Regions from separate parts of the Homo sapiens genome. Here all the other regions are linked to region 2. The links come from fine-mapping of genetic effects on gene expression. A gene starts in region 2. Each other region holds a variant in brackets. All regions are shown on one strand. Distances are from middle to middle.

Region 1 (8,183 bases), 28 kb after region 2:
TGGATTGATAGGTGCAGCAAACCATCATGGCACATGTTTACCTATGTAACAAACCGGCACATGTTGCTCATGTACCCCAGAACTTAAAAATTAATTAATTAATTAATTAAATTTAAAAATGGGCAAAAGATCTGAATAGACATTTCTCAAAAGTAGACATACAAATGGCCAGCAGGTATATGAAAAAAATGCAGAGAAATGCAAATGAAAACCGCCATGAGATATCATCTCAACCCAGTTAAAACGGCTTTTATCAAAAAGACAGGCAATAACATGCTGGTGAAGACATAAAGAGGGACCCTGGTACAGTGTTGGTGGGAATGTATATTAGTGCAGCCATTATGGAAAACTGTATGGAGGTTTCTCAGCAAACTAAAAATAGAACTACCATGTGATCCAGCAATTCCGCTACTGGGAATATATCCAAAAGGAAATATATCAAAGAGACATCTCCACTCTTATGTTTATTGCAGCACTATTCATTATAGACAAGATATGGAATCAACCTAAGTACCCATCGGTGGATGATTGGTGAAAGAAAATGTGGTGCCTATATATAAGGGAATATTATTTATTTATACGAAAGAATGAAATCCTCTTATTTGCAGCTACATGGATAGAACTGAAGGTTATCATGTTAGGTGAAATAAGCAAGCACAGAACCATAAATATTGCGTGTTCTTACTCATATGTGGGAGCAGTGATCCTGATCCTGTGTAGGCCTAGGCTAATATGTATGTTTGTGTCTTAGTTTTCAAGAAATAAGTTTAAAAAGTAAAAAAAAAATAATAATAATTAAATTAAAAACAGGAAAAAACATATAGTATAAAAACATAAAGAAAATATTTTTGTACAACTGTACTTGTATTTGTGTTTTGAGCTGTTGTAAAAGACTCAAAAAGTGAACACTAAAAAGTTTATTGGCTGGGTGCAGTGGCTCACACCTGTAATCTCAACACTTTGGGAGGCCAAAGCAGGTGAATTACTTGAGCCCGGGAGTTCAAAACCAGCCTGGGCCACATGATGAAACCCTGTCTCTACAAAAATAATACAAAAATTAGCTGGGCCTGGTGGCACATGCCTGCAGTTCCAGCTACTTGGGAGGCTGAAGTGGGAGGATCACTTGAGTTTGGGAAACAGAGGTTGCATTGAGCCGAGATTGTGCCACTGCACTCCAGCCTGGGTGACAGAGTGAGACCCTGTCTCAAAAAAAAAAAAAAAGAAAAAAAAAGGTTATAAAATTAAAAAGTTACAGAAAACTAAGGTTAATTTATTACTGAAGCAAATATTTTTGATAAATTGAGTGTGGGCTAAGTGTATGGTGTTTATAAAGTCTACAGTAGTGTACAGTGATGTCCTAGGCCTTCACATTCACTCACCACTCACTGACTCACCCAGAGCAATTTCCAGTCCTGCAAGCTCTGTTCATGGTAAGTGCCTTATATAGCTGTTCCATTTTTTAAATCTTTTATACCATATTTTTTCTGTTTAGATATGTTTAGATACACCAGTACTTACTGTTGTATTACAATTGCCTATAGTATTCAGTACAGTAACATGCTGTACAGGTTTGTAGCCTGTGTGTAGGTGTGTAGTAGGCTATGCCACTTAGATTTGTGTAAATACACTCTGATGTTCACACAACGATGAAATTGCTTAATGACACATTTCACAGAACGTATGCCTGTCATTAAGTGATGCATAGCTGTAGATGGATTTCTTTCTGTAATTTTATTTAAACCTCCCTAACCCGACGAGGTCGGTAGATTTGGTGCTAATGCCCCTTCATGACCACTCATTCATTCTTATAGCATTCTAAGTTTTCCCTGTTGTGGTTTATGATTATGTATTTGTGGGGTCGTTTGACCAATGTCTTCTCTATTGAACTGTGAGCACCATCAGGCTAGTGATGATGTCTATTTTTTTTCTATTGTATTCCAGCGCCCCATCTCTTGCCTAGGATGTAGTCAACACTCAATAAATACTTGAAAAACAAAAGAATGAGTTCATCGATTCACCCTTGCTCTTGGCATTGTGCTCAGTGGAGAAAATGAGGAACAGAGTGATTCAAAGACTTGCTGTGGGCTAACCTTTCTTTCAAGAAGTCCCAGTATGTTAGTCCCCTACTGATACTGTAACAAATTACCACAACTTTAGGGCTTTAAAACAGCACACATGTATTACCTTCCAGCCGTGAAGGTCAGAAGTCTAAAATGAATCTTACAAGACTAAAATCAAAGGGTTGGCAGGGCTGCATTCCTTCTGGATGCTCCACAGGAGAAGCTGTTTATTTGCCTTTTCAGACTTCTAGAGGTTGCCTGCCTGCCTCCTTGGGTTGTGGTTCTACAGTCCATCTTCAAAGTACATCACTCCAACCTCCATTTCTGTCGGCACACCTCCTTTCTGACTCTGACCATCCTGCCTCCCTCTTACGGGGGGCCTTGTGATTACATTGGTTCCACCTGGATATTACAGCATATGCCTCTCATCTCAAAATTCTTAAACTAGTCACATCTGTAAAATCCCTTCTGCCAGGATTCCCTGGGGTCATTCCCTTAGACTGAGATGGATCTTACCTATAAAGTAAATAATAATGAAGTAAAGAGGGCAGAGGTGGGCTTGCTCATTGGAGTAAAGAGAAATGGATCTTATCTATAGAGTAAACAGTAATGGAGTAAAGAGGGCTGAGGTGGGCTTGCTCACTGGAGTAAAGAGAAATACCAATAAAGCTATTTTAGGGAATTAATTCCTGGGTAAAAGGGAGACCCCTGGCATGTGACAGGCCGGAGGTGAACGAATCTGCTGCTTAGGGGGAAACAGGGAGTGGAACAAACCTTAAATGGCCTTCCATGTTGATGTACAGAATCTTATAAAAGTTGCAAATTATTTATCCTGTTGGTGTCCTCCCTTGAGTTATTAGTATTTACAAAATTATTAGAAAACCTAGAAGGATGTAGTGCTTGCCGCAGGGTGAATAGAGGGAGGGGGTGAGGCATGAGCCACACCCCATGGGCATATTCGCTGTTCAGAGAGTGGAACGAACATACATCTGTACAGGGTGGGGGCTGGAGTCCAGAAATATGAACCCAAGGCAGGCCACCTGGACCCCCATGTCTAGATACCTCGCTGTGGGAGGAAAGGCACCCAGCTCTGGTATCAACAAGTTAGAGGCAAAGCTGGCTCTCCTGGCTCATGGCTCCAAGCTGAACCCACTGGATGGAAATATTTGACTAGTGAAGGAAGGGTAGCTCTTAAGTTCAGGCCGAATTCATTCAACAGATATTTATTCAGCACCTCTGTGTGCCAGCCAGCCCTGCCCTGGCAGTGGTGAACAGGTTTGATGTGGCTCCTGTTAGCTTATGGGCATGTAAGGGAGGCAGACAGTCAGCAGGTAAATGAGAACAGAAAACGATTCTCAACTGTGGTAAGGACCAGGAAAGGAAACACATAGGATAGTGAGACAGAAATAACCACGGATGGGATCGAAGGGGTGTGCATTTTGGAGGGGAAGGCCAGGGAGGACCTCTCTGAACAGGCGTCATTTACGTGAAGGCCTGAGACGGAGGCCTTGGGAGAAGCAAATGTGGAGTCCCAAGGTGGGCCAGAGCTTGGTGGTTTTGAGAAATGGAGAGAAGGTGGGAAACAGTGGCCAGGAAAAGGTGGACGGAGTCGGGTGAGCATAGGCCTCAAAGGCCTTGTGGGCTGGGGCAGAGAATTTGAGGGTTACTGCAAAAGCGATGGGAAGCAAGGTGACCATTTTAAGCAAGAAATTGATCTGACATACGTAAAAAACCATATCCTTGAGAAATATGAGCATTCTCTATTGTTTTTCTTTTTTTCTTTCTAAGCTATTAGTTTCTGAATGTTTAGTACATACTGGGTGCTGTGCTAAGCTGTTTATATGCATTATTTTGTCTAGTATTTTCAACAGGCCTAAATTGGAGAAAATGTACACTCATTTTACTGGATACTAAACTGAGACTGAGAGAGTAACGTAGCTTTGCCAAGGCAAGTAGCAGAGGGAGATTCCAAATGCAGGTCTGTTGACTCCCATGTTTGAGCCTCTAACCAATTTGTTCTCTCTCACTCTCCCTCCTCGACTTTTCACAATTAAAAAATTGTGGTAATATATATGTAGATAACATAAAATGTGCCCTTTTCTGGTATCACAAATACCAAAATTTGAATAATTTGAATAATGGGCTATACCACATGGATTTACAAAACTACAGCATATTATTAATAACACACATTCCACTAGGAAAACTTGGCACAGGTAGGAGCATGTGATGTAAACAAGAACTTGCACAGGATTCATAGTCTTTGCTACTTTCAAGTAAGCTTGGTTTTTGTCCTGTGCATATGGCCTGTGTTTATTTCCATCCTGTGGCCTTTGGGTATGCTATCCTTTCTAACTGGATGGCTTCCCTTCATTCTCTCAGCCTTTGAAAATATGATTTTTTTCTATGTTAAAAAGAAGCTATATATATAAAAAAAGAAAGCTGTATTGAGTTATAATTTTTAGATATTTTACTTGCAATGAGAAAGAAGAGAAGTTGAATGTTATAATGTAGTACAGTAATAAATATCAGTACAGTGACATGTTATAGTTGATCAATCACTATTTATTGAAAATTCAGAGTGGTCAACATGGTCTTAGGGTTTATGGACACACAAAAACATTTTACCTATAGGAAGATATAAATGTACAATGAAGGGAGAGCTAAGGGGTAATTAAAGCCCAGTGCAGATAATCAGAGGAGGAGTGGAAGGATAGAGAAGGCTAAGAAAATGTGCCATTTTAGCCATTTTAAGTGTATAATTCTGTGGCGTTAATTAGATTCCTGTGATTGTGCAACCATCACCTGTATCTAGTTCACCACCCCAAACAGAAACTCTGTAACCAT[C/T]AAGCAACACCTCTCCATTCAGCTTTCCCCCAGCTCCTGGTAACCTTTAATCTACTTTCTGTCTCTATGAATTTGCCTATTGTAGATATTGCATTTAAGTAGAATCAGACAATATTTGTCCTTTTGTGTTTGGCTTCTTTTGCTTGGCATGATTTCAAGGTTCATTTACATTGTAGCACCTAGCAGCTCCTCATTTCTTTTCATGGCTGAATAATATTCCATTGTATGCACGTACCTCATTTTTTATTTTTTATATTATTTGTTATTATTACTATTATTTTCAGACAAGAGTCTTGGTCTGTTTCCCAGGCTGGTGTCCAATGACACAATCTTGGCTCACTGCAACCTCTGCCCCTGGGTTCAAGCGATTCTCGTGCCTCAGCCTCCTAAGTAGCTGGGATTACAGGTGTGCACCACTGCTCCCGCCTAATTTTTTGTATCTTTAGTTGAGATGAGGTTTCACCATGTTGGCTAGGCTGGTCTCAAACTCCTGGCCTCAAGTGATCTGCCTGCCTCAGCCTCCCAAAGTGTTGGGATTACAGGTGTGAGCCACTGCGTTCAGCCCATGTACCTCATTTTGTTTATCCATTTGTCTCTTGATGGAAAATTGAGTTGTTTCCACCTTTTGGCTATTGTGAATGAACATTGGCATACAAGTATCTCTGAGTCTCTGTTTTCAATTTTTTAGATCTATACCTAGAAGTGTAATTGCTGGGCAATTCTGTTTAGCTTTAAGAGGAACTGCCAAACTGTTTTCCATAGGGGCTGCACCATTTCACATTTCTATCAGCAATATACAAGGGTTCCAATTTCTCTACTTCTCTGCCAACACTTGTTTTCCATTTTTCCCTTGGTTTGGATCATAGCCACCCTAGTAAGTGGTAGCTCATTGTGATTTTGATTTGCATTTCCCAAATGACTTGTGATGTTAAACATCTTTTTGTGTGCTTGTTGGCCGTTTATATAGCTTCTTTGGAGAAATGTCTATTCAAGTCATTTGCTCATTTAAAAAACTATGTTGTCTTTTTTATGGTTGAGTTGTATGAGTTTTAGAAATATGTCCTGGATATCAAGCCTTTATCAGAAATATTTTCTGATATTTTCTCCCATTTTGTGGGTGGTCTTTTCACTTATTTGATAATGTCCTTTGCTGCACAAACATTTTTAATTTTGATAAAGTCTAATTCATTTTTATTTTGTTGCTCCTGCTTTTGGTGTCATGTCTAAGAATCCATAGCCAAATCCAAGATCATGGATGGAGATTTACTCCTATGTTTCCTTCTGCTGTTCCTCACTTTTAACCATTAAATTCTCATCCAGATTTTAGAAGTCATTCACTTTGTCAGTAAAACATCAGAGACATGGGAAGCGCAGCTAAGTAAGTCATGGTGGTCACCCTGAAGGGGCTCAGACAGTAGTGGTGGAAAGAAATCTCAGTGGCGATTATGCTATGATGATGTAGCCATTCATTCCCAAACACCAATGTAAGGATCTTTTCTGGCCCACTAATTTGTGGAAAAATGATTTAAAAAGTCAAATTTTCATGAAACTAAATTTATTCCATTTAAATAACTGTCCCTCATTGTGCGAGTGTCTGCCTTCTATGATATTAGCATGTTCTTATGACCTGAGGCTAAGATAGATGATGATAGTTTATTTAAATGGCTCTACTTGGAAAATTGAGAGTGATCAACCCTGTGTCACACTTCCTAATTTGGGGAGGAAACTATGAAATTCAAGGGTTTAGAAGCCACTGCAGGTGCTAGAATTCATTTATGCGGGCCTACGAAGCATGCTGGTGATCCCTGCCTGGAGTTTCTTGGGAAGGTTTTGTGGGGATCTTGTCCGGATTCACTTCCTCAAATATCCAATTCATTTCAGCTGTAATTGTCATCTTTGTGCAAAATTTTTAGAAATAGAGAGTGGGGAAAAAGAAGAGGAAATCAAAACTAGAAGGTCTGTTTCTTAGCCTGACTTCTTCTGGGCAGCCTCTGACTGATTCCTCTTATAGGTTTTGCCAGATGGTTTTTCTCTTTACTGAAGGTATATATAAAAAAAGAAAATGAGAAGGAAAGAATCCTGCCCAGAAAGGGATTTTTTTTTTTTTTCTTATGAGAAAGAACACTCAGTTGCACTTGGCGCCTGAATGAAGTTGGGCTAATGAGTTCACCATTGTAAAACAGTGAAATTCTCCCAAACATACTAATTAAGGTATTTTTTGTCTTTTCTATTGGTTTTCGCTTTGAAGGTACTATGAAAATGGCACGCTGAAAAACTGAGGGGCCAAGTTTGGAAGAAATGACATAGTCTCTACTTGGCAATTGGCCTTGCACTTGAATGACCTGGTGTGGAGACTGGTCTCCAAATTTTCTGATGGCCACATGCCTGGGCTGCAGTATGTAGTCATGCAGTTTAATGGCTCGCTATGGATCTGTGCAGTGCACAACCTATGTAGTCGTAAACAGTGGCCTGATGTATTCTAACAAAAATATAAATAAGCATAGACACCTAAGAGATGTGTGCTGGTTTATAAATTATATACAGGTTCTATTGTCAATCCACCTAGATTATATATTGATGAAACTTGATTTCTTTTTTTAAAGATAAAAATAAAAATGAATAGCAGTTATAACAAACTTCATCTATGCTCCCATGCGTGGTTTTAAATATTCCTTGGGGTAGGTCTCCCTACTTTGGAGACATTGGCCTGGGAAGAATTCACATGGGTCTTCTTTCTCATTCGGGCAGGGCAATGCATTTATAGGGCAAGGTTGCCTCTTAGCAGTAGAGTACTTAAGAGTCTTACCACTCCCTGGGCCGGGTGCGGTGGCTCACGCCTGGAATCCCAGCACTTTGGGAGGCGGAGGCGGGTGGATCACGAGGTGAGGAAATCGAGACCATCCTGGCTAACACGGTGAAACCCGGTCTCTACTAAAAATACAAAAAATTAGCCTGGCGTAGTGGTGGGCGCCTGTAGTCCCAGCTACTCTGGAGGCTGCGGCAGGAGAATGGCGTGAACCCGGGAGGCAGAGCTTACAGTGAGCCGAGATCGCGCCACTGCACTCCAGCCTGGGCGACAGAGCAAGACTCCGTCTCAAAACAAACAAACAAACAAACAAAGAGTCTTACCACTCCCTGCCAGGACCTAGCCTCACCTGCTGGTTTTCCATTTCAGAGTACACAGTCATTAATGAAGCCTGCCCTGGAGCAGAGTGGAATATCATGTGTCGGGAGTGCTGTGAATATGATCAGATTGAGTGCGTCTGCCCCGGAAAG
Region 2 (8,158 bases):
ATTAGGGCTGGAGACTTCCATGAAGGGGCCAGTTACAGCAGGCTCCAGTGGAAGGGCCCTTTGTCTTTTCCACAATCCTGCCCTTCTCCATCTCTGGCCTTGGCTGACTTGAACTTGGTGTTTTGCACAGCTGATGGAAACCAAACTTAATTACCAGAAGTCTGGGATGCCTCTTATAGGTTTGCAGACCAGTTCTACCTCTGGCCTGTTTCCTCTGGCTTTCCCAGTGTGTGGTTGCTGCTTAGCTGCTGATCTGCAGAAGTGATAGCTGGGAGATAGAGGGAACTGTAAGAATTCACAAAGACAGTCTCCTCTGCTGTTTCTCCCTGTGGATTCACATGCAACCAGCCTCCCTGGTGGCACTGAAAAAGGTACCATGTGAAAATTAGTGGGTATTATGACTTGTAATTAAATGGGTGGCCTGACTCTGTCTATTACAGCCAATTTTTTATTCCTGATGCTGATTATTAGTAGATAATTCTTAATTCCAGGTATCATGCCCTATCTCCCAGCATGCCACTTTGTCTTTTTCATACACAGCCTTTCTTGTGATTTATTCTCCCCGAAGCAAGCAGTGGTAGGAGGTGAGGGCAGAGGGGGAGATAAGCATCACAGAAACAGTTAACATTTACTGATATCTTAGTATATTTTAGGCACTGTTTTGAGCTCTTTACTCTAGCCCTAATGGCAACAGGTACTATTCTTCAGACTTAACAGATGAGGAAACCAAGGCCATCATATGTGAAATAACATGCCCAAGTGTACACAGGTAGCGAGTGGTCCATCTGCATTCAACATTAGTCAGTATGGTCCAGAGCAAGTGCTCTTAAGTCAGAAATAGTTTTTTAAAGGTGAGGAGGAGGTGAGAGGGCCCTCCAAATGTCCACTGTGCAGTTTATAGCCTAGACTCAATGATTGTATATATTCACAAAATCACTTTCCCCAAATCTGAGAAATATTTGGTCCATTTTTCAATTTTAACTTACGAAGATTAGTGATTCTAAAAAAGTTGGGAGTTTGCAAATGAGAAGGCTATGGCTCCCTCTTATTCAAAAACCTGCATGCAAAAATTTGCATATGATTTTGGAAGATTCAAAGTCCCTCAAAAAACCCCATCTCAACCAGGAGCTTCCAGATTAAGAATCCTTGATTTAGAACAATACTAAACTCTATCAATATGAAAAATGCAGTTGACCATAATGGGGACAGAGAAAGGTAAACTTGTGTAGGAAAACAGAAATTTGTGTAGGGCTGAATGTCCTCAGTAAACTACTGACTTTTCTGTGTCATAATAACAGTTCTCCTCTTTCTCTTCCAGCCCTGGGATTATTGTGCAGTTCAACAAGGTAATATCTGATTACTGCTTTGACTTCTCCAGAAAAATACATCCTCCACCTTTGCAGAGCATCTTTTTGAGAGTTTCTTTCCAGGTCCTCAGCTCTAGGAAATTTACAAACCCAAATTAGTGACAACAAACTAACAAATCAACTCTTGAAGGGGATTCCAGAAACAGAAGAAGGGCCTCTGTTTCCAGACCCCTGAACCTAGAGAAGTAAAGACCTGGTACCAGGGACTTCCTTAGCAAATAGCCAAACAGGTTTGTTGGGAAGGAAAAATAATCTTTCTTCCCTACCCATCTTAGATTCCTTGGCTGTGGCCCTGTAAATTAGAATGACAAAAAAAAGAAAAAACAGATTAACAAGAGAAAAACAAACAAAAGTTTTTTATTAACTTGTGCATGGTGCTTACATGTTGAAATACCTAGTGAGGAGTAACTCAAAGAGATGGTTAGAATTTGGGTTCATATTGCATTTTTAAAAAGAACAATAAATTTGCAGAGAAGTGGCAAGACAAACAAAAAGGACTTTGAGCTTCTAGGGGTAGCAAATTATGGGAAGATAAATAAATGGGGGTCCTAATGGGAGATAAGACTAGTTAGTAAGTTTTGGTATGTAGATTCCTCTGGGCTGATAAGGGTCTAGGGTTGTCTCCAATGATTAACTTCTGTCCGTCCTGGTAGAGAGGGGAGGTGGAGACACTATACTTTTATAAATTCAAGTCTGCTTTTAGGAAAATGGGGGGAGAACAGAGACCTATTCTTGTATCTACTTCTTCTTAACTGCTTTCAGCTCAAAATAATCCTTATGCCAAAGGGGCATATTTGGGGGTGGTATAGACTGCTATCCTTCAGGTTCATCACTTAGAGCCCCATTCTGTCAGGGGGATGCAATTCATGTAGGGATGAGGCTGCTTGGTATTGACTCAGAGAGGTGTGTGTGGTGGGGGCTGGGAGGTGGGGAGAGGGAAGATGAAAAGAAACCCCACGTGTCATGGGAAGGACCAGGTGGAGATAGTTGAATCATGGGGACAGTTACCCCCATAAAAGTTTTCATTTTGTTCTCTAGATGTTGGTGGGCCCTGGTGGTTTAGGAGTAAGGTGTGCTGAGCTCGAAGCAAAGTCTTGGGAAGAGAAGTCACCCTGGACTATTGATGAAGGCCTGGAGTAAAGATTAAGAAATGGAAGTGGAAGGGAAAAGATAAGGGGAGAAACCTGAGGAAGGTAGAATCTGTAAAGCTCAGGTGCCGTCAGCTGGAGTTGAAACAGACTCCTGAGAGGCTCTTATGCCTACAGTTATTTGGGAACTAAGTCATCTTCTTCCCACTCCCATCACCAAAGGACCAGGACTGGTTGGCCAGCAACAAGGTGAACCTCCCTTCTTCGAACCTCTGCCCTCTACCTCTTAGGTATATGCTGCCCTCTGGTATTCTGCTCCTGTTTAAGGCTACTCTTGGTGCTTATTTTAACTGATTTCATCTCGATATGGAAGTTGAGTGTAGGAACAAGACTCATACCATGAGATGTTCTTGGGGGCAGTCTCAGGTCAGATAATAGAGATAATGATTAATATTTAGTGTGCACTTAATATGTGGTAGGCTCTGTGCTATGGGCCTTACATGCGTAATCTTATTAAATTCTTCCAGTGATCTACAAAGTAGGTTTGATTATTATTTCCATTTTATAGATGAGAAGACTGAGATTCAGAGAGTTAACTTGCTTAAGGTCACACAGCCAGAAAGTGGTGAATCAACAAAATTAGAACACAGGCCTGCTGAGTTCTTGCTTCCAGTCACTTCACTGCAATAGGCCCCCAGAAGCAGGGCTGGAGTTCAGAAATTCTTTCTAGTAGAGCACCTGTGTCAGGGCTCCTGACCTTCTGATCTGTCCTGAGCTTTACAGATTCTACCTTCCTCAGGTTTCTCCCCTTATCTTTTCCCTTCCACTTCCATTTCTTAATCCTTACTCCAGGCCTTCATCAATAGTCCAGGGTGACTTCTCTTCCCGAGACTTTGCTTTGAGCTCAGCACACCCTACTTGTAAACCACCAGGGCCCGCCAACATCTAGAGAACAAAATTAAAACTTTTATGGGGGTAACTGTCCCCATGATTCAATTATCTCCACCTGGTCCCTCCCATGACACGTGGGGTTTATGGGAACCACAATTCAAGATGAGGTTTGGGTGGGGACACAGCGAAGCCATATCAAATGGTGAAATACAATTCTGCATATGTAGCATCCTAAGAAGCTCTATAGCCTAGTGGCTAAGACTATAGCCTGTGGGCCTAAGCTGCCCGGGTTCAAACCCTGGCTCTGCCCCTCACTAACTGTGTGGCCTTGGATGAGTTATTGTAATCCTCAATGGTTCCGTTTCTCTAATTGTAAAATACAGAGGCTAGGTTTATTGTGAGGAATAATTGAGTTAATACATGTAAGGTACATGACACCTGGCACGGAGGAGTTTATTTTAAAAAGTCACCTATTATGAAACATCCTTCTTCCTCATTTCGAGATGTCACTTGCTATCTTGTACCTAAACTGAGCCCTTTTGGTGGAGGCAGTGAGGGTTCTTGTGTGTTCTTCGCCATCCCTGCCTGGCGTGTGCGCAGGAGCTATTTATGTTGCTGAATTCACCATCGTGGGGATCACAGGAAGAGGAAAACTTTTTCCAGTAGCTCAGGAGCTGCTTATGTCGCTGAATTCACCATGACGGGGATCATAGGAAGAGGAAAACTTTTTCCAGTAGCCTGTAGTTGCAAAAGATAATAAGCTTTCCAACCTGTGATCACCTGGAGCAAACGGAGAGGAAAGGAGATAAACGAGGAGTGTTGCGTGCGGAGTGGAGGGAGGCTCCCTTTCTCCTCCCATCACCAACTCCTCCTTCTCCTCAGGCCAGGCTTTTAATCAGGCTCCCCGCGTGCAGTCAGAGAGGGCAAAGCCAGCTCCCGTCTCAGCCTCCCGTAGGAAGATCTCCCGGCCTCACCTGAGCGCCCCGCAGCCCTGGGTACCTCTGCTCCCGCCCAGGGTCCTATGGCCCCTCCTCCCAGCACCCAACACTGGGACCCCACCTGTACCCAGGCTGGCCTCCCTCCCCCGCAGCTTCCTTTGCAGCCGCCGTCCGCGGGTCTCCAGGCGTGGCCACACCTCCCGGGGCCCCGCAAGGGTTAAGGCAGCAGAGAGGAGAGGTTTGGGCTGACGTCGCTCTGGCTGAAGGTGGTTCCCCTCAGATGAGGATGGGAGAGCCTGGCGAGCTGAAACCCGAGCTCCCGCTCAGCTGGGGCTCGGGGAGGTCCCTGTAAAACCCGCCTGCCCCCGGCCTCCCTGGGTCCCTCCTCTCCCTCCCCAGTAGACGCTCGGGCACCAGCCGCGGCAAGGATGGAGCTGGGTTGCTGGACGCAGTTGGGGCTCACTTTTCTTCAGCTCCTTCTCATCTCGTCCTTGCCAAGAGGTACTGTGAGTAGCGTCCGGGACACCCTAGGAGGACACCCTAGGAGGGAGCATTTTCCTCCTGGGGTCTGCCTGGGAGCAGGACTGGGAGTCTCAGGAGGTGGGCTGTGTGTGTTTGGGGTGAGGGGTTGAGGGGGGGTGGTGCTTTTCCAGTGATAATTTTAGGGACTTGGCTGGTGGTGCTGGAGCTCCTGTGGCCCTCCCTGAGACTGTGACGTGGTTTTGTCATCCCAAATCGTGGGGCTGTACTGTCTCAGGAAAGCGGACCAGCTCCTATTTTATTTGCTCTTTTTATCATTTTAAAAGTACCAAATTGCCTTAGGGAATCAATTCTGAGTTACCCGCTCTGACTTGCAAAAGCGAAGTTTCTCTTGGAAAGGGCTCCCTCAGAGGTGAGCAAGAAAGAAAGAAGAGAGGGAAAGAAAGAAAGGAATAAAGAGCAGGGCTTGCTTGGTGTTCTTCTGGTGAATCTTGCTTCACGAACTCCTACAGCCATACCCCTTCGGAGTAGATCCAAGCACAGGAGATTGACTCACTCAGCATATATAGACACACTTCCTTTCTGATGAGAGTGAGAAAGAAGAAAAAGCCAAGGTTAAAAGTGCAGATTGTTTCTGGGATGCATAGGGTTTGTTTTGAAAGAGCTCTGGCTTCTTTGGTTTTCATATATCATTTTCTAAGCCACAATCCCCAGGTCAAATGGGCTTCTGGGGACAAATGAGGCTGGGACATGATACGGAGATCCAGCTAAGGGCAGAAGCGAGGACATGGCAGATCCTGCTTGCTGGCAGGCGGGGAAGTGGGAACGTCATAGGAACATCTGTCCTTCTATGGCCCAGGGGGTAAAGTGAGACCTCATGAGATGAGGGCAGGCCGAGATGTACAGAAATGACCAAACGGGGCAGCTCTGAATAGGGGCAGGTTATGTACGAGCCTTCGCTGCTTCCCTTCTGTGCTGGTTACCTGTCACCTGAACTCTATCTGAGAGCTGGGTGCTCTGCCGCTGCAAGTAGCTGGCAAGTGCCTGAGAATGAAACAGGCCAGGTCGGGTGGGGAGGATACTAAATGCAATAACCTGTGTAGAAGGGAAACTTAGCCATAGGCACATCCCTTCATGATCAACGAAAAGCTGAGATACACAAACCCCCCTGCCCTTCATTTTGGTCAATACTTTCCATCTACCTAGAGCCTGCCTGCCCAGGTAGGATCTTCCTTAATGATTTACAATAAAGATGGTGAGTGTTTCATTTGAATTTTGCCTCCATGGTGTCTGGAGCAGCCCAAAGACAATAATAAAGGAAGAAGGAGCCCTTCATAAGGGCTGACAATCCATAAACCTAAACACTTGCCTAGGGGTAAGTGGGTGACTTTGCATTAAGGCACCTCCCTACTTCATCTTCGCCTTTGCATGGTGTCGGTGGACCAGCTCCAGAGGACCTGGTTCTTCTCAGAGTGCCAGGGCTCAGTGGATTTGATTCCTCAGGGTTACATCAGCGTTCCCCTGCTTCCTGTTTTATTACATGGCAGGTGAGGCGCTTCAAAGCCATAAAAGTTTAAAAGAAAATAAAAAAACCTGAGCTGGCTCTTTTTCCTAGCCCAGAATCTGAAAAATCCATTTATTTCTGACCCGAGAACCTCTTTTACCTTTGGCTGTGAAAAAGCTTCAGAGAGGATACGCAGTTTGTTGGTAGCTAAACTGCTGCCTGAACCAGAGCGCAGCTTCATGTGTTTAGCAAGGATATTTTAGTTGTTGAATGTTTTACTCACATTTCGAGGGAAGACGGAGGAATAGCGTGGAGAAGGAAAATATTTCCTCAAGGAGTGAAGGAAGTCCACTCCCTGCTGGGATGCTGAATCTGGCCCCAGGCAAGAAAAGCTTGGAAGCGTATTTCCTCTAATTAACTTTTCTAAAAAGAGTATTTGCTGAATTGTAAACATCCACTGGGATGGTACCAGAGAGTGTTGTTTCTCACTGGCATGTGACACATGTTGGGAGGATGAGAATCCAAACATGAGGCCAAGCGATAACCCAACATAAACAGAATGAGGGGAGAAACCCAACTCCACTGACTTCACCAAATTGCGGTAGCTCTGCCAGTGTGATTCTGCCGAAGAGGAAAACCTCATTTAAAATATGGGACTCTTGGGAATGAAAACTTAATCTGGAGAACTTCACAAGTGTTGCTTCCAACAGACATTAACTTGTGGGGAATGAACATAAATGCAACCAGGGAAGATAATTTGAAGTGCAGATATTCAGTGGGCAGGAAAAGCCAGCCGAGAAAGGAAACATGGAAAGAAAGCAAGGGAGAAGGAGTGGCAAGAAAAATGAGATGTGAGATTACACTGGGATATGTTGGCAAATTCCTAGGAGAAAGCTAGGAAAATTGGGCCTTCTTGGCACGGGTGGATTTTTGCGGGGATCATGAAGAGGGTGTTCCCCTAATATACAATCTGAGAGCTCCTGGCATCCCCAACAGGAAAATAATTTAATGATGGGATCATGGAGTTTAGGAGCTGAGAGTGACTTTAGAAATTATTTTAGTATGAGTCCCTCAATTCAGAGGATGAAGAGATTAAACATCAAGCAAACATTTAGTGAACATTTATTAATGTGTCCAGTCTTTGAGCCAAAGGCTTCATATGCATTAATTCTCAGACCACCCTGAAATGGCATTGCTGTTATTATCCGTGTTTTACAGATGAGGTTCAGAGAGGTTCTATGATACACAGAGGTTTAAGGATATACAAGTATGGTTCCCCCAAAAATTGAACATAGAATTACCATTTGATTTAGCAATTCAATTTCTGGGTGTATACACAAAAGAATTGAAAGCAGGGACTTGATTAGATATGTTTACATCAATGTTCATAGCAGCATTATTCCCAATAGCCAAAAGGTGGAAACAACCCGAATGTCCATTGATAAACAAGATACAGTATACACCTACGACGGAATATTATTCAGCCTTAAAAATAAAGGATATTCTGATACGTGCTATAACACAGATGAACCTTAAGACCTTATGCTAAGTGAAAGAAGCCAGACACAAAAAGACAAATGTTCTGTGATGCCACTTATATGAGGTACTTAGAATAGTCAAATTCATGTAGACAGAAAGTAGGGTGGTAATTGCCAGGGCCCAGGAGAAGATGGAATGGGAGTTATTATTTGATGGGTACAGAGTTTCAATGTGGAATAGCAAAAAGTTCTGGAGATAGATGGTGGTGATGGTTGCACAATAGTATGAATGTACTTATGCCACTGAACCATGCACTTAAAAACGATTTGAGGCAGGCGCAGTGGCTCATGCCTATAATCCCAGCACTTTGGGAGGCCAGGGCGGGCAGATCACGAGGTCAGGAGATCGAGG
Region 3 (8,183 bases), 62 kb before region 2:
GCTCCTGAGTAGCTGGGATTACAGGCATGCATCACCATGCCCAGCTAATTTTTGTATTTTTAGTAGAAATGGGGTTTCACCATGTTGGTCAGGCTGGTCTCAAACTCCTGACCTCATGATCCACCTGCCTTGGCCTCCCAAAGTGCTGGGATTACAGGCGTGAGCCACCGTGCCTGGCCAGCAATGGTTTTTTAAGTGTTATACTCTCTGTGGCTCCCTTTCTTAGGTTAGATGGCCTGAAGCTGGTATAGGTTCTTCCTTCTGTTCCTGCCTCTTTCATGTGGTGAGTCTGCCAAGGCAAGCTCTGCCCTCAAGAGGAAAGGCTTCCAGTTGTTTAGCTGCTGTGGCCATGAAAAGGTGGCTAAGTATAACTCAGTATGGAATAGAAAACTCATTCAGATCACAGGGACAGTTTCCATTCACCAGACCAGGTAGCCAGTATTACCACTATTATTAGGACCTCTGATTCCTTTGTATACTTCTCAATTGCTTCAGAACGTGGAAGACAGAAAGGCACGATTAAGTAATACCTCAAGAACTTAGCAAAAACCACCTGAAGGATACAGAGAAATAACCAGTGACAAGAAGGGAAAAGTTCAGGAAGGACAAAACTGGGACGTTATTCTAAAAGTGAAGGTACACATTCTACCAATATAAATGATGAAATAGGATGCACAAGGAAAATGGTCTTTGCCATCCTTATGGACTAACTGTAATATGTCCAATAATTAGGATGTTTAAAATATGTTGACAAAATTCTGGAAAGCATTGGCTGGTTTTGCATTTACATTCTGGTGAAGTCATTTTCTCCCTGTAACTGATATTTGGACAGTTCTCCTGAGACAGCAATGGGGCATAATATAAACTGTCATATAATCATTTAGACATTTCAATTCTCTCTATGTCTTCTTTTTGTCGACAACCTAAAGGAATATATATTGCACATACACATAAACAGACGTGTTTTCACTATTGTTGTGGATGCAATTGATAATGGAAACAAGAAATGAAGGGTCTCTGAAGAAGAGTGAGATTTTTTCAGTTCAGTCCAGTTAGTGAAGTCCAGTTCAGTTCTGAACTTAATCCAGAAGTTGTTATTTTTCCGCAAAAATGACAGTGAAAAATCAGAGGGTTACATGGGAGCTCTCATTTTGCAGCTGCAGAAGCAACAGCAGCAGCATGGAGAGAAGGCATTGGTGTGTGGCCACACGCAGCTTTGGGGTAAGAGCAGGCAATAAGGAAGCAGTGCATTATAATGGAAGGAGCATGGGCTTTGGTTAAAGATAGACCCATGTTTTTGACTCCTGCCTTTGCAAATTACTCACTTTCTAACCTTTCCTGTTTTCATTTCTTCTGTAAAATGGGGCTGATTGCCCTCATCTCATGACTATTGTAAGGATTAAATAAGATATATTTCAAATGTCTACTACTGTGCCTTGCACATTGTAGGCACACAAGAGTGATGACCATACAGAAATGAAATTTGCAGAATTCGTGGGGGGAATTGTGATTCAAGTCCTTGCATGGGTCTGAGCAGTAGCTAGTAAGAACAGAAGTAGCTAGGGTGGTAGAGATAGATAGATAGATAGATAGATAGATAGATAGATAGATAGATAGATAGATTGTAGAAAGCTCCATGTTTTTAGGGATGCATTTTTAGCAAGTACATTATAAGAGATAGTATTAGAACTAACTTTTCACTTTCAGATAATTCTCAAGAAATAATAGGTCTGGTTGGAAAAGCCATGGACTAGTGTGACAGGTCTAAGGGGATAAAAGAGTAATATAAGATGACAACAGAATAGGCAGAACCGGACCACACTTGGACACAGAGAGCTCTCCAAGCTGATTTTGAGCTGTGTCATACCTATGGCAGAGGCAGTATTGGTTCCCATGGGCTACCCTCCAATCTTTCCTCTTGTCGACTTGGCAAGCCTGGGACCTCTTCTGAAAACCTCAGCTCTAACAACTCCTAAAGTGTCTCAGTGTAACAGGTAAGGAAACTGACAAAAGCAGGGACAAGGGCACACTCTCCCTGTTGAGCCCCTCAGTTGGTTTAGCAACCAGGGAGAGGCCACTCCCTGGCTTAGCTCTTTCATCCATAAGCTAGGATCCCTGGTGCCTCTCCCAGTTCTTTCTGCAACCTGCTATAGCATCAGGAGGAGGGAGGGACTCAAGCCATCTTTCTGCAACTCAATGCTCATATTTCTGGCTTGTTATCACAGTGATGTATCCTTAGGGACAGTGAGTCACATCCTAGAAGTAGCTGGCATCCTTGGAGCCATCCCTGACTTTCTCTCTCCCAGCAGGGTGGGAGAAGAGCACCTCTCCTTCCAAGGCATGGAGGCAAGAAAGTCTTCCCCTTCTCAATCCTCTGTTATGGCTAAGCTTTACACACTAGAGTTCAGGTGTGCAAAACCAGAAAGGAGCTTCTTTTGTTTTAGTAATGGATTGTCTTCTGCTCTGAAGCCCCCATAGAAGTAGGGGGAAAAACACAAATAAAAATAGACATGCCAATAAAAGAGAACCCAGTCTCTTCCAGTTCAAAATAGTTCCCTTTGGGCAAATATTCTGAAGTGGTTCCTACCAAGTCTGTTTCTCTCTTTTCAAGAAGTTGCTTTCTACTCTTTTTCAAGATGGCACCTGAAGTGGAGGGAAGCAGAGCCTTAAATATCCTCACAGCAGAGAGGAGGAGTTCTGCACCTGTGTGTGGTCCTCTGGGCTGCTGTTCTCTGGGCCCCAGCTTCTGGCCTTAATAGCCTTCCTTGCCTCAATGTGAAGCCTGGTGGACCTGGTGAATGTTCTCTCAGCCCATGGAATACAACTTCAGCCATCTTCTGCTGCTGACTCCAGCCACCTGAGATTTTGCTGGTGATACTGGTCCTTTGAGACATGGTCACAAGCTCCTTGAGACCCCCAGACCTGGCCAGACCTCCCTGTGGCTTCTGCTACAGGGTTTCCCCATCTTGTGTCTCAGTGAGCACTTGCAGGCAGGCTTCTCAATTCTTAATTCTTCTTTACTTTCGCCATCCCTTTTATTGGTCCCTGAGAACTTTCCAGATCTTCTTTGTGCTCTGCTGAAGCCAAGAGAGAGCTAGGGTGGGCTAGAATGAGGCTATCTCAGGCCCTGGCTATACAGGCACCCACTTCTGCCCATGCTGCCCATTAGTACCCAAACCTGATGTACACGGCACCCTTTGGAAATGCAGACTTTTCCCACAGGCTGTGGCTCTCCCAGGCTGTACCTGGGGAAGCAGAGCACCAGCCATGGTCTTGCTAGGTTTCTCCAAAGTTTCCTTAAGTTCCTAGCGCATGCGCACACCCAGCCCAGCC[A/T]GGGGTTTTGATTTGGTTGTGGGAGGGAATTCAGGACACTGTCACACTTGCCCATCCTCTCTTCAGCCCTCTTCTCAGCTCCTCCCTCCACGGAAAGCACCTTCTATCTTCCCCTTCTCTCCAGCAAGAACTGTCCTCATATCCTCCTTCTTCCTTGTTCTTTACCCTTTGCCTTCCCTTTCCCAGGTCCAAAATGACAAAAGGATTATAGGAGCAGAAACAAGATTTCCAACCAAGGAAAAATATGGAAAAGAAAGGGACAGGCACCTCAAGCTGTGTGTCCCAAGCCTTGGTGAAGGCCAACAGAACAGGGAGTGGCTCACCTCCCATTGAGATGTTATGAAACTAGGAGGACCCTCAGGAATACTATAGTCTAGGAGGAGGTTCAGAGAAGTTAAGTGGCTTGCTCAGGATTGGTGACTTGCCCAACTAATTACCCCTACTAATTAGTTGAATGGGGTCCAGTGTTCATTCCATTTCACCACACTCCCTCCATATTGTCAGTTAATATCAATGCTAAAACATCACAAATAAATATAAGGAGGGAATTGAGACAATAATAACCAGAGGCACGCTGTTGTGGACGAGGAGGAATGTATTAGTCAGAGTTCTCCAGCTCTTCAGAAAAACAAAACCAACAGGATGGATGTGTGCTATATATGTAAATATATGGAGACAGAGAGAGGGGGAGAGATTTTAAGGAATTGGCTCACATGATTGTGGAAACTTGGTGAGTCCAAAATTAGATGGGAGACGTGAGGAGGCCGGCAGGTTGCAGACTCAGAGAAGAGATGCAGTTTGAGTTGAAAGACAGTCTGCTAGCAGAATTCCTTTCTGCTTGGGGAGAAGAGGCCAGTCTTTGTTCTATTAAGGCCTTCCATTGTTTGGATAAGGCCCACCCACATTATGGAGGGTAATCTGCTTTACTCAAAATCTATCTCATCCAAAAAACATCTTTGCAGAAACATCCAGAATAATGTACCAAATATCTGGGCACTGTGGCCCAGATAAGTAGACACGTAAAATTAGCCATCACAAGGGAGTTGTGGGTCTCATTGTGAACTGGAAAGATGTTGCCGAAAAGGATCCACTATCTTATCTCAGTGGGTGGAGTTTCCAGAGAGTTAGAGATTACATCTGGATTTTTGTTGTTGCTGTTGTTGTTTTTGAGACAGGGTCTTGCTCTGTCACCCATGCTAAAGTGCAATGGTGCAATCATGGCTCACTGCAGCCTTGACCTCCTGTGCTCAGGTGATCCTCCCACCTCAGTCTCCTGAGTAGCTGGGACTACAGTCGTGCACCACCACGCCTGACTAATTTCTGTATTTTTCACAGAGACAGGGGTTTCACCATGATAACTAGGCTGGTCTCAAATTCCTGGGCTCAAGTGATCTGTCTGCTTTGGCCTCCCAAAGTGCTGGCATTACAGGTGTGAGCCAGCATGCCCAGCCTAGATTTTGGGTTTAAGTGGGTGACCTGGTCCCCGGACACCACATCAAGAAAGGAGGGAAGATAAACAATGTTGAGGAAGGGAACAGGGAAGAGATGTTTCCCCATCTGCTTTGCTTAGGTCATGTTTGTAAGTAACAAAAACCGGTTCAACATGGAGAAACCTTAAATACATATTACTAAGTGACAGAAGCCCACCTGTAAAGACTGCATACTGTGTGATTCATGTTCTGGGAAAGGGGAAACTATGAAGACAGTAAAAAGATTAGTGGCTGCCAGGGGTTGAGGGGGAGGGAGGAGTGAAAAGACAGAGTACAGAGGATTTTTAGGGCAGTGAAACGAGTAGAGCTGATACTATGCATTGTACCTATGTCCAAACCCATAGAACATATACCACCAAATGTAAATTGTAATGTAAACTATGAACTCTGGTGATAAGGATGAGTTCATGTAGGCTTATCAATGGTAACAAATGGAAAACTCCAGTGGGGGATGTTGATAGTGGGGGAGGCTGTGCATTTGTGGAGGCAGAAGGAATTTCTATATCTTCCTGTCAATTTTGCTTTGAACCTTAAACTGCTCTAAAAAATTTAAGCCTTAATGAAAGAACAAACAAATCAGTTAAAGCTCACTTTTTCTTGCAGGGGAGTTTATTATAAAGACACAGGAATGTTTTTTTGGAAGCCAACAACAGGAACAAAATGGGGCTTGGAGAAGCACCAAGATCAGGGATCAGGGCACACACAAGCCATACTCAATCTGGGTCTCTTGCCTCTGATCTCTTCTTCCATTCTTCTTTTTTCCTGGAGCCTTGATTTCTCTGCTTCTCAATTTGCATGGTGGCTGGAACATGTCCATTGTACAGGTCTGGTTATCCGAAGTCATATTCTCTTTTTCTTGATTCCATTTCCAGTTCCTGGGAGAACTTTGTTCAATCTAACTTGAGTGAATTGGCAACATCTGGGCCAATCAATCATGGCAGAAGATTGAGGCAATATTTTACAAAATAACTGCCAAAGGCTCACTGCTGTGATGAGGAGGGAGTTAAGAGTTTCTACTTGAACTGGGTGGGCATTGCCAAAAATGATCCACTCCTTTATCTCAGTGGGTGGGGATTCCATGGCATTAAAGTTCATATCCATGAGAACTGGCATGGGGCCGCCTACCTCTCTGACCCTCTACCCATCCTCCCTTTGGTGGATGCCAGCCTCTGTGACATTTCTCAGTAGCTGCAAGTAGCAAAGAGAACCTGTGGGAAATGCTAGCCTTGCCTCCTGCCTTCCGTTGAGGGCAGATTGGGACTTGTAGCTGCTATCAGCTGCAAGGAACTGAGGGTCATGCCATTGCATTGCCTGAAACTGGAGATCATTCACAATTCAGTTCATGGTCCAAGAAACAAAAATAATATTTAATGAGCAAAATCTTCTTTGTCTAATTATGGTAAATGTCAAGGTTGAATCCAAGTGCTTTGCTTAAGGTCAAATGCTCAGTGCTATCGAAAAGCATTTAAACCAAAGCTGATGGGCTATTAAAGCCCAGGCTAGTTAAAATAAGGCACAGTTCTTTAGTGATTTATTTCCTCCTATTGGAAGCAGTAATGTTGAAGTTGGAACAGTCCACAGCAGCTTGTGCTTTGCTCTTCTCCGCTGCTCTCTATAGACAGGCGAGGGATTCTCTGATGAAATCAATGCTCCAAGTCTCCTAAAGAGTTACTTTCAAGGACCAGGAATTTCATTTCCATTTGGTCAGTTATTTTAAGGTATTGGCCTCTTTCTGATTTAATTGGTCTGAGGTGAGACCTGGGCATTGGTATTTTTTTGGAGGCTCCCAAGTGAAGTGTTTCTAATATGTACTGGGATTGAGAACAACTGAGCTAAATGCTTGATTTAGTTAATTAAAATAAAATGCTGAAAGCTGATGCCTTTGGGTCCTGAACTCTTCTCCATATTGCTCTGCCCTTACTCATAGTTTTCATTCAAACCAAATATATATTCTTCTCTCCTGCCTCTTATTTTTGGAACCCAGAGCTGTCTCCCAGGAGGTGGCTTGCATTGTTAAGCTCCAGAAAGGGCAAAGTAACAGTTCCATACTCCCTTTGCATTTGGTAGTGAATAGGATGGAAACTATCCCCCAAATATCTGTTAGCCCCATGTCAAATGGATTGGTGAAGACCAGTTTTGAAGGTTCAAGAGAGAGATGAGAATTCACACTACGGGACAGGCCACTTCAGAAAGTCTGAAAAGAATGGGACAGCAAAGCTTTCCTGAGCAATGAAGAAATCTTTCTCCCATTATTTATGCACACTGCTTCACTGTTCCTTCTTTCTTTCTTGTCATACAATAGAAATAATGATCTTGGTACCAGACCCTGTGTTGTGCGAGGACAATTAATCACCCACCTAGTCATTTATTTCCTCATACTCTTCCCCACCAGGACCATTATCCTGTAGGTAAACAGAGGTGCCAGTAAATCACGGACAGAACACAGGTCAGTGGGAGAATGGTTGATTAAGCGTCTCTATAACTTAAAGTTATGTAGTACCTCTCATCCCAAAGGATCTCCAAGCACCAGATAGACTGATGTACGCACTGCTGCAGAACCCCTCTATTTGTCACTTTCTACACCTTTGCGTTAGGGGGCTGGAATGTTTATTGCCCTTTTCAGGCAGTTACCCTAGAAACTGCAGTCATGGGTAAGACAAGAGGAAAAGGAAGGAACTTTTCACTTTCCTGTCCTTTCAAGCAACAGAAATCAACTAGCAATCAGAGAGTAACCTACCCATCCTCTTGGGCAAAATTTCTTTGGTTCATGAAATGCTGCAAATATTACACAATTCCATGTTTCTTCTTTTTCTAAAGAGGGCAGCAACTGAGTAGGCATTGAGGTTGAGTGGTGAGTGTGGACAAGATCTAAAACAAGTATTTCCAGGGTAAAAATATTTAGGGTCTACTAGAATCATAGTCTAGGGGGAAATCACTGTTTGAAAATCTTCATGTTAACTCTGCCCCTTAATCTTTAGTAATAAATGGAGCCTTTTGAAAGAAAAAAGCAATTTCCACTTTTCCTCCCAGTGTTTACTTAAATTGTTTAATTATAATGCTACTTTCAAATTTATCCTTATGGCTCTGATATATATATAAAACCAAAAACAAGTTAAATTATATAATTCAATACAAGTTAAATTCAAACAAAACTACAAAGCCAATTTAACAACCTTAATTTAATGGGAAGGATGATGTTGTTTTGCTGAAACCAAATTACCTTTCAAATGAAAACATGATATTGACTGCTGCCTCATTAATTCTTTTAAATTTGGCATGTCTATGCTACTGGGTGCCATGTGATGACCCATTTTTCCACAATTTCTCTTTATTTGAACTACTATGGAAACTGCCTTTGTA

Alleles and levels. Alleles are on the strand shown, and positions count from the first base shown. SD is a standard deviation of normalised expression in the study named. Not every link is listed here.
With allele A in place of T in region 3, the expression in fibroblasts of the gene that starts at base 4,682 in region 2 is lower (small effect, 0.37 SD a copy in GTEx).

What was found.
Region 1: its variant is fine-mapped to the expression of PAMR1 in nasal epithelium (TOPMed, PIP 0.96).
Region 3: its variant is fine-mapped to the expression of PAMR1 in fibroblasts (GTEx, PIP 0.97).

Annotation. Positions count from the first base shown.
Region 1 is chr11:35,494,172-35,502,354 of GRCh38, reverse strand. PAMR1 (peptidase domain containing associated with muscle regeneration 1) reads left to right here. Exons shown (of 11, transcript NM_001001991.3): 2 at 8,083-8,183. Among named protein-coding and RNA genes, the nearest start is that of PAMR1, 27 kb to the left of the region's middle. The variant C/T (reference allele first, on the strand shown) is at 4,908.
Region 2 is chr11:35,522,140-35,530,297 of GRCh38, reverse strand. It overlaps PAMR1 (peptidase domain containing associated with muscle regeneration 1), which reads left to right and starts at 4,682. Exons shown (of 11, transcript NM_001001991.3): 1 at 4,682-4,785. The coding sequence starts at 4,713.
Region 3 is chr11:35,584,624-35,592,806 of GRCh38, reverse strand. No RefSeq gene overlaps it. Among named protein-coding and RNA genes, the nearest start is that of FJX1, 30 kb to the left of the region's middle. The variant A/T (reference allele first, on the strand shown) is at 3,334.